Regions from separate parts of the Homo sapiens genome. Here region 2 is linked to region 1. Evidence: fine-mapped expression QTL. A gene starts in region 1. The other region holds a variant in brackets. All regions are shown on one strand. Distances are between the middles of the regions. Region 1 holds the start of CASP8AP2 (caspase 8 associated protein 2). Region 2 has its middle 2.9 kb from the start of GJA10.

Region 1 (4,392 bases):
TCCAGCCTGGGTGACAGAGCGAGACTCCGTCTCAAAAAAAAAAAAAAAAAGTTTGTAAGCAGATTTACTCATGCATAATCTTTTCTGGGACAATTCCAATGGATTCAGATGTGAAAGCAAAGTAGACAGGAGAAGGATCACATAGCCTTTCGTTATAGGCAGTCTGAAGGAAGTTTTCTTTTTAAAATTGAGAGAATGTGGCTGGGCGGGGTGGCTCACACTTGTAATCCCAGTACTTTGGGAGGCTGAGGGCAGTCTGATCACTTGAGCCTAGGAGTTCGAGACCAGCCTGGGAAACATGGCAAAACCCAGTCTCTACAAAATACAAAAATTAGCCAGGCATGCTGGTGCACACCTGTAGTTCCAGCTACTTGGAAGGCTGAGGTGGGAGGATTGCTTGAGCACAGGAGGTCAAACCTGTAGTAAGCCGAGATCTTGCCATTGCACTCCAGCCTGGGCTATAGTCTCAAAAAAAAAGGAAAAAAGAAAAAGAAAAATCATTACGAAACTGAGAATGTGTCCTTAATGTAGACGCTAAAAGACAAAAAATAAAATTTAGAGAAAAACACAAGCATTTGTAGAGAAAAACAGGAAAAAGCCAGAGAAGACAGTGTATTTTTACACTCATGGGAAAGGCTAATACAGCAAGACCCCAGAAGAAGAGGTAAGGGGCAAATACTAACAAAAGCTATCATATACGGCACATTTACTATGTTCCAGGCACTAACCTAAATGATCTAAATACATTATTCACTTAGTTTAAATCCTCCCCAGAGTTCTATGAGGTCCATATTATTCTTTTCCCCATTTTACAGATGAGGAAAACACAGACGATCAAGAAATTTGCACAAGGCAACCACCTGGTAAGTGGCAGAGCTGAAATTAGACCCCAGGTCTGTCTGTAAAGCAAGATGGCCAAAATCAAGAATATTCAATACAATATAAATGTTTTTGGAAAGAAGGCCATCTCTTGTAAAACGGAACGCCAGGAAAAGATAATTGGAGGGCATAGCGGGGATAGGAAGGGAGATGGGAGAATCCCTGCCATGAAAGCCTCTGTCCCCCTCCAGTCAAAGAGGCGCTGAGGGAGATGGGGGGGAAAGGCCTTGAGGAGAGGCGAAAGGTTTGCTGCTGGAGGTGTGGAGAATGGAAAAAGACCAAGGAAGAGTCGAAGAGTCAAAGACAACTTGATGCCTGAAGCACAAATGCTCAGCTCCTACGAATCCTACATTCACATCTGAGTTAGGGCCTACTATGTGCTAGGAATGAATCTAGGCGCTGTAGAAATGAAAAACTTATTTAGGCATGTTGGTTTGATGCCTAAATAAACATTTCAGAAACAATCAACATCAATGATCACCTGACACTCCAGGAAACCCATTTCTCCAAAGAACTCCATCCGAAAGATTTTAAGAGTATATTCCAAGGAGAGACTGGATGGTGGGGGGGAGGGGCAGGACGAGAGGCCGAAGGGACAATTCCTGGGCGCGCCCACCCATAGTCCCCGCCCAGACCCTCTCGAAGGACCACAGAGGGACGCAGGGTGCAAGCCCTGAAGCTGCACCGGGGGCGGAGGGAACGTGGCTACCTGCGGCCAGACGTCAGGCGCGGCCCTTCCCCGACCTACTTGGCCGCTCCAGATGGACTCCCTCCGACTCTCTGGTTTCCCAGGGGCAGCCGACCTCCACTCGGGGGACTACCGCGCCATGCAGCCTCTTCCTTAGCAGTCCCTCACGGACCGGGCCCCTACGACAACTTACCCGCCCTGCCCGGCCCAAGACAACCCGGTTCCTTTCTGCCCACCGAGGTCTCCCTGGCATCTCCACCAATACCAGAGCGCTATCAGGGTATGGAGGCGGGACTGAGTGCCTACGGCCAATCATATCAGACGCAAAGCACGTCGCAGCGCCCACAACTAGTTCCCGCCTTTGGAAGGGAAAAAAAAAAACACGGTTGGCGCCAAACTCCAGTAATCTTCCTAGGGCTTTAAGAGAGAGGGGCGGGGTGTAAGGTGGCGGGGAAGGCGATGGGGCGGGGCTTCAATAGGAAGGGGCTGACCTGAGTGGAGGTAGGGGCGTGGCCTGAGAGAAGCTTTTTAGTGAAAGACAGGAAGCCTTGAGAGGTCTGTCATTTATTTAATACTTTATCTTAAAATTCTGCTGTCAGCTGCGTGCGAGACAAAGTGCTGGGCTCGATTACGATGAATAAATTTGTTCCCTGCCCTCAGACGCGTTCCTGGATGATAGGCAGACAAACAACTTAGCTTCGGATGTTGGGAGCCTTAAGGAGGGGATACTAGTCTAGCGGGGCAGGAGAGAGAAGAGCTTTTTACAGGGTGGAATACCTGACTTGCCTTATAGAACCTGTAGGAATGGGGGGTGCCGGTAGGTCTAGCCTCAGGAGCTCAGCCTGAGCATTGATAGGTGCGAAAATAAGGCCACCTTCCTCGGCTACTTATAGTCTGCCTATATTCATCCCTACCCATTTCCTCGTTTGTCCACTTAGCTTTTTTTTTTCTTTTTGCTTTCAGACAGGGTATCGCTTTGTCGCTCAGGCTGGAGCGCAGTGGAGCGATTTCGGCTCCCTGCAACCTCCACCTCCAAGGCTCGAGAGATCCTCCCACCTCTGCCTCCAGAGTAGCTGGGACCATAGACGCGAGCGACCACCACCCCTGGCTGTTTTGTTTCGTTTTGTTTCTGAGATGGAGTTTCACTCTTGTTGCCCAGGCTGGAGTGCAATGGCGCGATCTCGACCCACTACAACCTCCGCCTCCGGGGTTCAAGTGATTCTCCTGCCTCAGTCTCCCGAGTAGCTGGGATTGCAGGCATGTGTTACCACGCCAACCTAATTTTTGTATTTTTAGTAGAGACAGGGTTTCGCCATGTTGACCAGGCTGGTCTTGAACTCCTGTCCTCAGGTGATCTGCCCAGCTTGGCCTCCCAAAGTGCTGGGATTAAAGGCGTGAGCCACCCACGCCCGGCCACCCCTGGCTAATTTTTTAAAATTTTTGTAGAGATGGGGTCTTGCTATGTTGCCCAGGCTGGTCACGAACTTCTGGGCTCAAACAATCCTCCCACCTCAGTCTCCCAAAGTGCTGGGATTACAGGTGTGAGTCACTGCACCTGACCCCATTTAGTCTTAACTGCCATATCAACCAATTTATTTTTATTTTTATTCTTTTTTTTTTTTTTTTGAGACGGAGTTTCACTCTTGTCACCCAGGCTGGAGTGCAGTGGTGTGATCTCAGCTCACTGCAACCTCCGCCTCCGGGGTTCATGCGATTTTCCTGCCTCAGCCTCCCAAATAGCTGGGATTACAGGGGCCTGCCTGGCTAGTTTTTTGCATTTTTAGTAGAGATGGGGTTTCGCCATGTCGGGCAGGCTGGTCTCAAACTCCTGACCTCAGGTGATCTGCCCGCCTCGGCTTTCCAAAGTGCTGGGATTACAGGCGTGAGCCACCGCGCCTGGCTTTATTTTTATTATTTTTTTAGAGACAAGGTCTCAGTCTGTTGTCCTAGCTGGAGTGCAATGGTGTGATCATAGCTTACTGCATCCTCAAACTCCTAGGCTCAAGCAATGCTCCTACCTCAGCCTCCCAGGTAGCTGGGACCACAGGCACACAACACCACACTCGCCTTTCTTTCTTTCATTTTTTTTTTTTTTTTTTAATATAGACAGGGTCTCGCCATGTTGTTGCCCAGGCTCGTCTCCAACTCTTGACCTCAAGCAATCCTCCGACCTCTGCCTTCCAAAGTGCTGGTATTACAGGTATGAGCCACTCCACCTAAGTTATGTATTTTTATTTGCACATATGCATGGCTTTTTTTTAATTAATTAATTAATTAACTTTTTTTTTTTTTTGAGTTGGAGTTTTGTTCTTGTTGCCCAGGCTGGAGTGCAATGGGGCGGTCTCGGCTCACTGCAACCTCCACCTCCCAGGTTCAAGTGATTCTCCTGCCTCAGCCTCCCAAGTAGCTGGGATTACAGGCACCTGCCACCAGGCCTGGCTATGTTTTTTGTATTTTTAGTAGAGATGGGGTTTCACCGTGTTGGCCAGGCTGGTCTCAAACTCCTGACCTCAGGTATTCCGCCCGCCTCGGCCTCCCAAAGTGCTGGGATTACAGGCGTGAGCCACTGTGTCTGGCCGGCTTTAATTTTTTTAATAAGAGCTTTACTGGGATATAATTTACATACTATATAATTCACCCAAATAAGTTGGGTGTGGGAGGGTGTTAGATACACAGTCTGCCTCTGTCACCCAGGCTGGAGTGCAGTAGCACAATCGTAGTTCACTGTAACCTTGAACCCCTGGGCTCAAGAAATCCTCATGCCTGGGCCTCCCAAGGTACTGGAATTACAGATGTGAGCCACTGTGCCTGGCCCCAATTAAACT
Region 2 (4,392 bases), 62 kb before region 1:
TCATGATATATTATCCAGGGCTTTCACTGCAAGACAAAGTATAGGTAAAGAAAATACAAATCAGTCAAACCCTCAGGAACTGGCTCATATCAGGGTAGCAGTAAAGATTAGGCAGACACAGAAACAATACCAGCAATAACACATAATTACATCCATTAAGCCACATCTGGAACATCATGTTTTCATGGAATTTTTGCTAACTTAGAAGAAAAGTGAATATAAACTGCTTCTCTAGCAAGCTTAGGATCTGGGAAACAATACAGGTATAGCTGACATGAACAGGTTACTTGGTTTATCCTGAAAAACTAATGTTTTTCAAGGTTCAATAAGGTTAAAATACTTAGTAGGTTAAAGCTTTCTAAGATATGGAAGACTTCCAGATAAGAAAGATACAGAGGAAAAATAGGAAAGTATTATTAAGTTAAAATAGATAATGAGGCTGGACGTGGTGGCTCATGCCTGTAATCCTAGCACTTTGGGAGGCTGAGGTGGGTGGATCACCTGAGGTCAGGAGGTCGAGATCAGCCTGGCCAACATGGTGAAATCCCGTCTCTACTAAAAATAGGAAAACTAGCCGGTGTGGTGGCACGCGCCTGTAATCCCAGCTACTCAGGAGGCTGAGGCAGGAGAATCACCTGAACCCAGGGGGCAGAGATTGCAGTGAGCTGAGATCACGCCACTTCACTCCAGCCTGGGCAAAAGAGTGAAACTCTGTTTCAAAAAAAAAAAGATAATGAAACAATTCTCTCCTTCCATAATTCATTCATTCAGTAATATTTGCTAACATCTTGCTATTGGCTGGGCGCAGTGGCTCATGCCTGTAATCCCAACACTTTGGGAGGCTGAGGCGGGCGGATGATGAGGTCAGGAGATTGAACACAGCCTGGCCAACATAGTGAAACCCCGTCTATACTAAAAATACCAAAATTAGCCAGGTGTGGTGCTGTGCGCCTATAATCCCAGCTACTCAGGAGGCTGAAGCAGGAGAATCGCTTGAACCTGGGAGGCGGAGGTTGCACTGAGCCAAGGTCATGCCACTGTACTCCAGCCTGGGCAATAGAGCAAGACTCTGCCTCAAAAAAATAAATAAAATAAAATAAAATAAATCAAACCTTGCTATCGCTTAGGCATTGGGCTAGATGCCAGGAATTCAATAACAAAATATATTTGGTCCCAGACCTCACAGTACTTGATCACTAAGGACTCCCACTAACCTATAAAATGAATCAATACTGATAATACAAAAATGAATATCAACCAAAAGAAAAAGAGAGAAAAACCTGGAATTCTTAGATTTTTTTCCAACTTATCTCCAAACACAACAATTGATTCCAGATGGAACATAATATTAATTGTAAAAAAGTAAACCATAAAAGTATTAAAATAAATTATAAAAGAATATGTTTTGTAATCTTGAAGTAGAAGGCTTTTTAAGCACATTAGTGCCAGAAATTATAATTAGAAAAAAATCCAGATTCTAGCTGGGCATGGTGGCTCACTCCTGTAATCCCAGAATTTTGGGAGGTGGAGGCAGGAGGACTGCTTGAGCCCAGGAGTTGCAGACCAGGCTGGGAAATATAGTGAGGCCCCTGTCTCTACAAAAAATAAATGTAAAAAGTTAGCCAGGCATGATGGTGAGTGCCTATAGTCCTAGCTACTAGGGAGGCTGATGTGGGAGGATCACTTGAGCCCAGGAATTTGAGGCTGCGGGGAGCCATAATGACACTACTGCACTCCAGCCTGGGTGACAGAGTGAGACCCTTCCTCAAAAAAAAAA[AAAAAAG/G]AAAAAGAAAATACAGATTCTACCAGCAAAACTGAATGGCAAAGGTGGAGCTGTCCAGAAGGTATCTGGGTCTAGAGAACAACGACAACAAAAATGGTACAAACAGGAGATAAACATTTATGAATTATCATTGAATAAGTAGAGAAGATCCCTCAGAGACAAAAAGAAAAAGTGAGACAATGACAGAACCCTGAGACTAATATAGAGGAAGAAAGAGTGAAGGGGTGGGTTGCCCCTCCACACCTGTGGGTGTTTCTCGTTAGGTGGAAGGAGAGACTTGGAAAAGAAAGAGACACAGAGACAAAGTATAGAGAAAGAAAAAGGGGCCCAGGGGACCGGCATTCAGCATACGGAGGATCCACGCCAGCACCGGCCTCTGAGTTCCCTTAGTATTTATTGATCATTATCGGGCATGGCAGGATAATAGGTTAATAGTGGAGAGGAGGTCAGAAGGTAAACACGTGAACAAATGTCTCTGCATCATAAACAAGGTAAAGAAAAAAGTGCTGTGCTTTTGATGTGCATATACATAAACATCTTAATGCCTTAAAGAGCAGTATTGCTGCCAGCATGTCCCACCTCCAGCCCTAAGGCGGTTTTCCCCTATCTCAGTAGATACAATCGGCTTTACACCGACACATTCCATTGCCCAGGGACGAGCAGGAGACAGAAGCCTTCCTCTTATCTCAACTGCAAAGAGGCGTTCCTTCCTCTTTTACTAATCCTCCTCAGCACAGACCCTTTACAGGTGTCGGGCTGGGGGACGGTCAGGTCTTTCCCTTCCCACGAGGCCATATTTCAGACTATCACATGGGGAGAAACCTTGGACAATACCTGGCTTTCCTCGGCAGAGGTCCTTGAGGCCTTCCGAAGTGTTTTGTGTCTCTGGGTACTTAAGATTAGGGAGTGGTGATGACTCTTAACAAGCATGCTGCCTTCAAGCATTTGTTTAACAAAGCACACCCTGCACAGCCCTTAATCCATTTAACTCTGAGTTGACACTGCACATGTTTTAGGGAGCACAGGGTTGGGGGTAGGGTTACAGATTAACAGCATCTCAAGGCAGAAGAATTTTTCTTAGTACAGAACAAAATGGAGTCTCTTATGTCTATTTCTTTCTACACAGACACAGTAACAATCTGATCTCTTTCTTTTCCCCACAAAAGAATCTACAAATAAATATGAGAAATGGCCAAGGAGAAAGAGGAGGAAAATCATGAGGGTGCTGTCTCTGAAACCAAAGCCCAAAGCCAGAGTTTCAAGAAGGGGAATAGTTGACAATGCCAAATACACACACACACACACACACACACACACAAACACACCACTATATAAATTAATTTAATTTAATGGTGATATACCATGCTCAGGGATTGAAAATTGCAATATAGGTAAAGATGTCAATTCTTCCCAAATTAATCCAAAGATTCAGTGTGGAATTGTAAATCACTCAGTAAAACAAAATTCTATAAATGTACATGTATATGTATGCATGTGTATATGAGATATATATGTATGTGATTTAATTGAGCATGGAGAAAAAAATGCAGAAGGATACACACCAGGAATTTAATATAGGTTACCTGAGCTGTTGAAGGTGATGAGAGTGGACGGGAAGTTAAGGTGGAAAAAAGAGAGGCTAAAAAGAGAAAGGAAAGGAAAAAAGACTTCTAAGAAAGCATAAGTGATTTTTATCAAAAGTGTATGTTTATGTACATTTTTACCTGTATGTACGTATATAAATATAAATAATTTTTTAATGAAATTGAAAAAGTGGTAGATACCTCTCAGAATTTGGAAGAGGTATTAATGAGACTTTTATAATTTACTCTATATACTTGTGAATTGTTTGAGATTCAAAAATTAAGAATGCAGTCATTTATATTACTTGCAAATAAAAATTAGATATTAAAATGAGGACTCAGACCTCATTAACCAAAAGCAATAATTTACTAAGTTCTATCCTGTCTTAAAGTTTTGGTCTTTTCCCATAATTATTCTCTTAAAACTTTCTGGTCATTATTCTTTATTTTAAAAAGGGATTTCCTCTGCAGGTAGAGATCCGGAAAAAAAATAAAGGATTCCTTTAGCACTTAAAAAAAATCTATAGCTTCTATTTTATATAAAAACCCTGAGGTGGGAAAGCTAACTTATGTCAATCTTATTCCTATTTGGCAGTACTAAACTATATAATACTTCTTTTTGCCACTATCTCTTTAAAATGTGGAAATTATTATTTTTAAATAGCAAGGAAAGGAAAACCGAGCTTAGCCTATACGAAAAACAAAAATACAATCTTACATACTAGAATACAAGACATTTTGTCCTTTAGACAACTAGTCCGTTTTCTAAAAATAACTACTTTTTACCATTAAATGAATGTGGGTCTTAGAAATATTACTGAATTTTCTTTTATTATCAAATACAAATTTAGCATATCCTATGTAAAATGCTGATGGCCCTTTTCTGCATATTATTTCAGATCTTGTTTTCTATACCCACAAGGATTTTCTATATATTTCTCATAAACAAGAGAGTCCACATATTTACTACTTACCTTATGAGTGAACAAAAAAATCACGATTGGGTTCGCAGAACCTCAAAGTTGC

What was found. PIP is the estimated chance that this variant, and not a neighbour inherited with it, causes the effect. A credible set is the group of variants that fine-mapping cannot tell apart.
Region 2: its variant is the best candidate, but not a certain one, in a credible set for the expression of CASP8AP2 in whole blood (INTERVAL, PIP 0.53).

What each region holds. Positions count from the first base shown.
Region 1 is chr6:89,827,303-89,831,694 of GRCh38, reverse strand. CASP8AP2 (caspase 8 associated protein 2) reads right to left here and starts at 1,815. Exons shown (of 10, transcript NM_012115.4): 1 at 1,589-1,815. RefSeq lists an enhancer at 2,126-2,315 and a silencer at 2,416-2,465.
Region 2 is chr6:89,889,374-89,893,765 of GRCh38, reverse strand. No RefSeq gene overlaps it. Among named protein-coding and RNA genes, the nearest start is that of GJA10, 2.9 kb to the left of the region's middle. The variant AAAAAAG/G (reference allele first, on the strand shown) is at 1,778.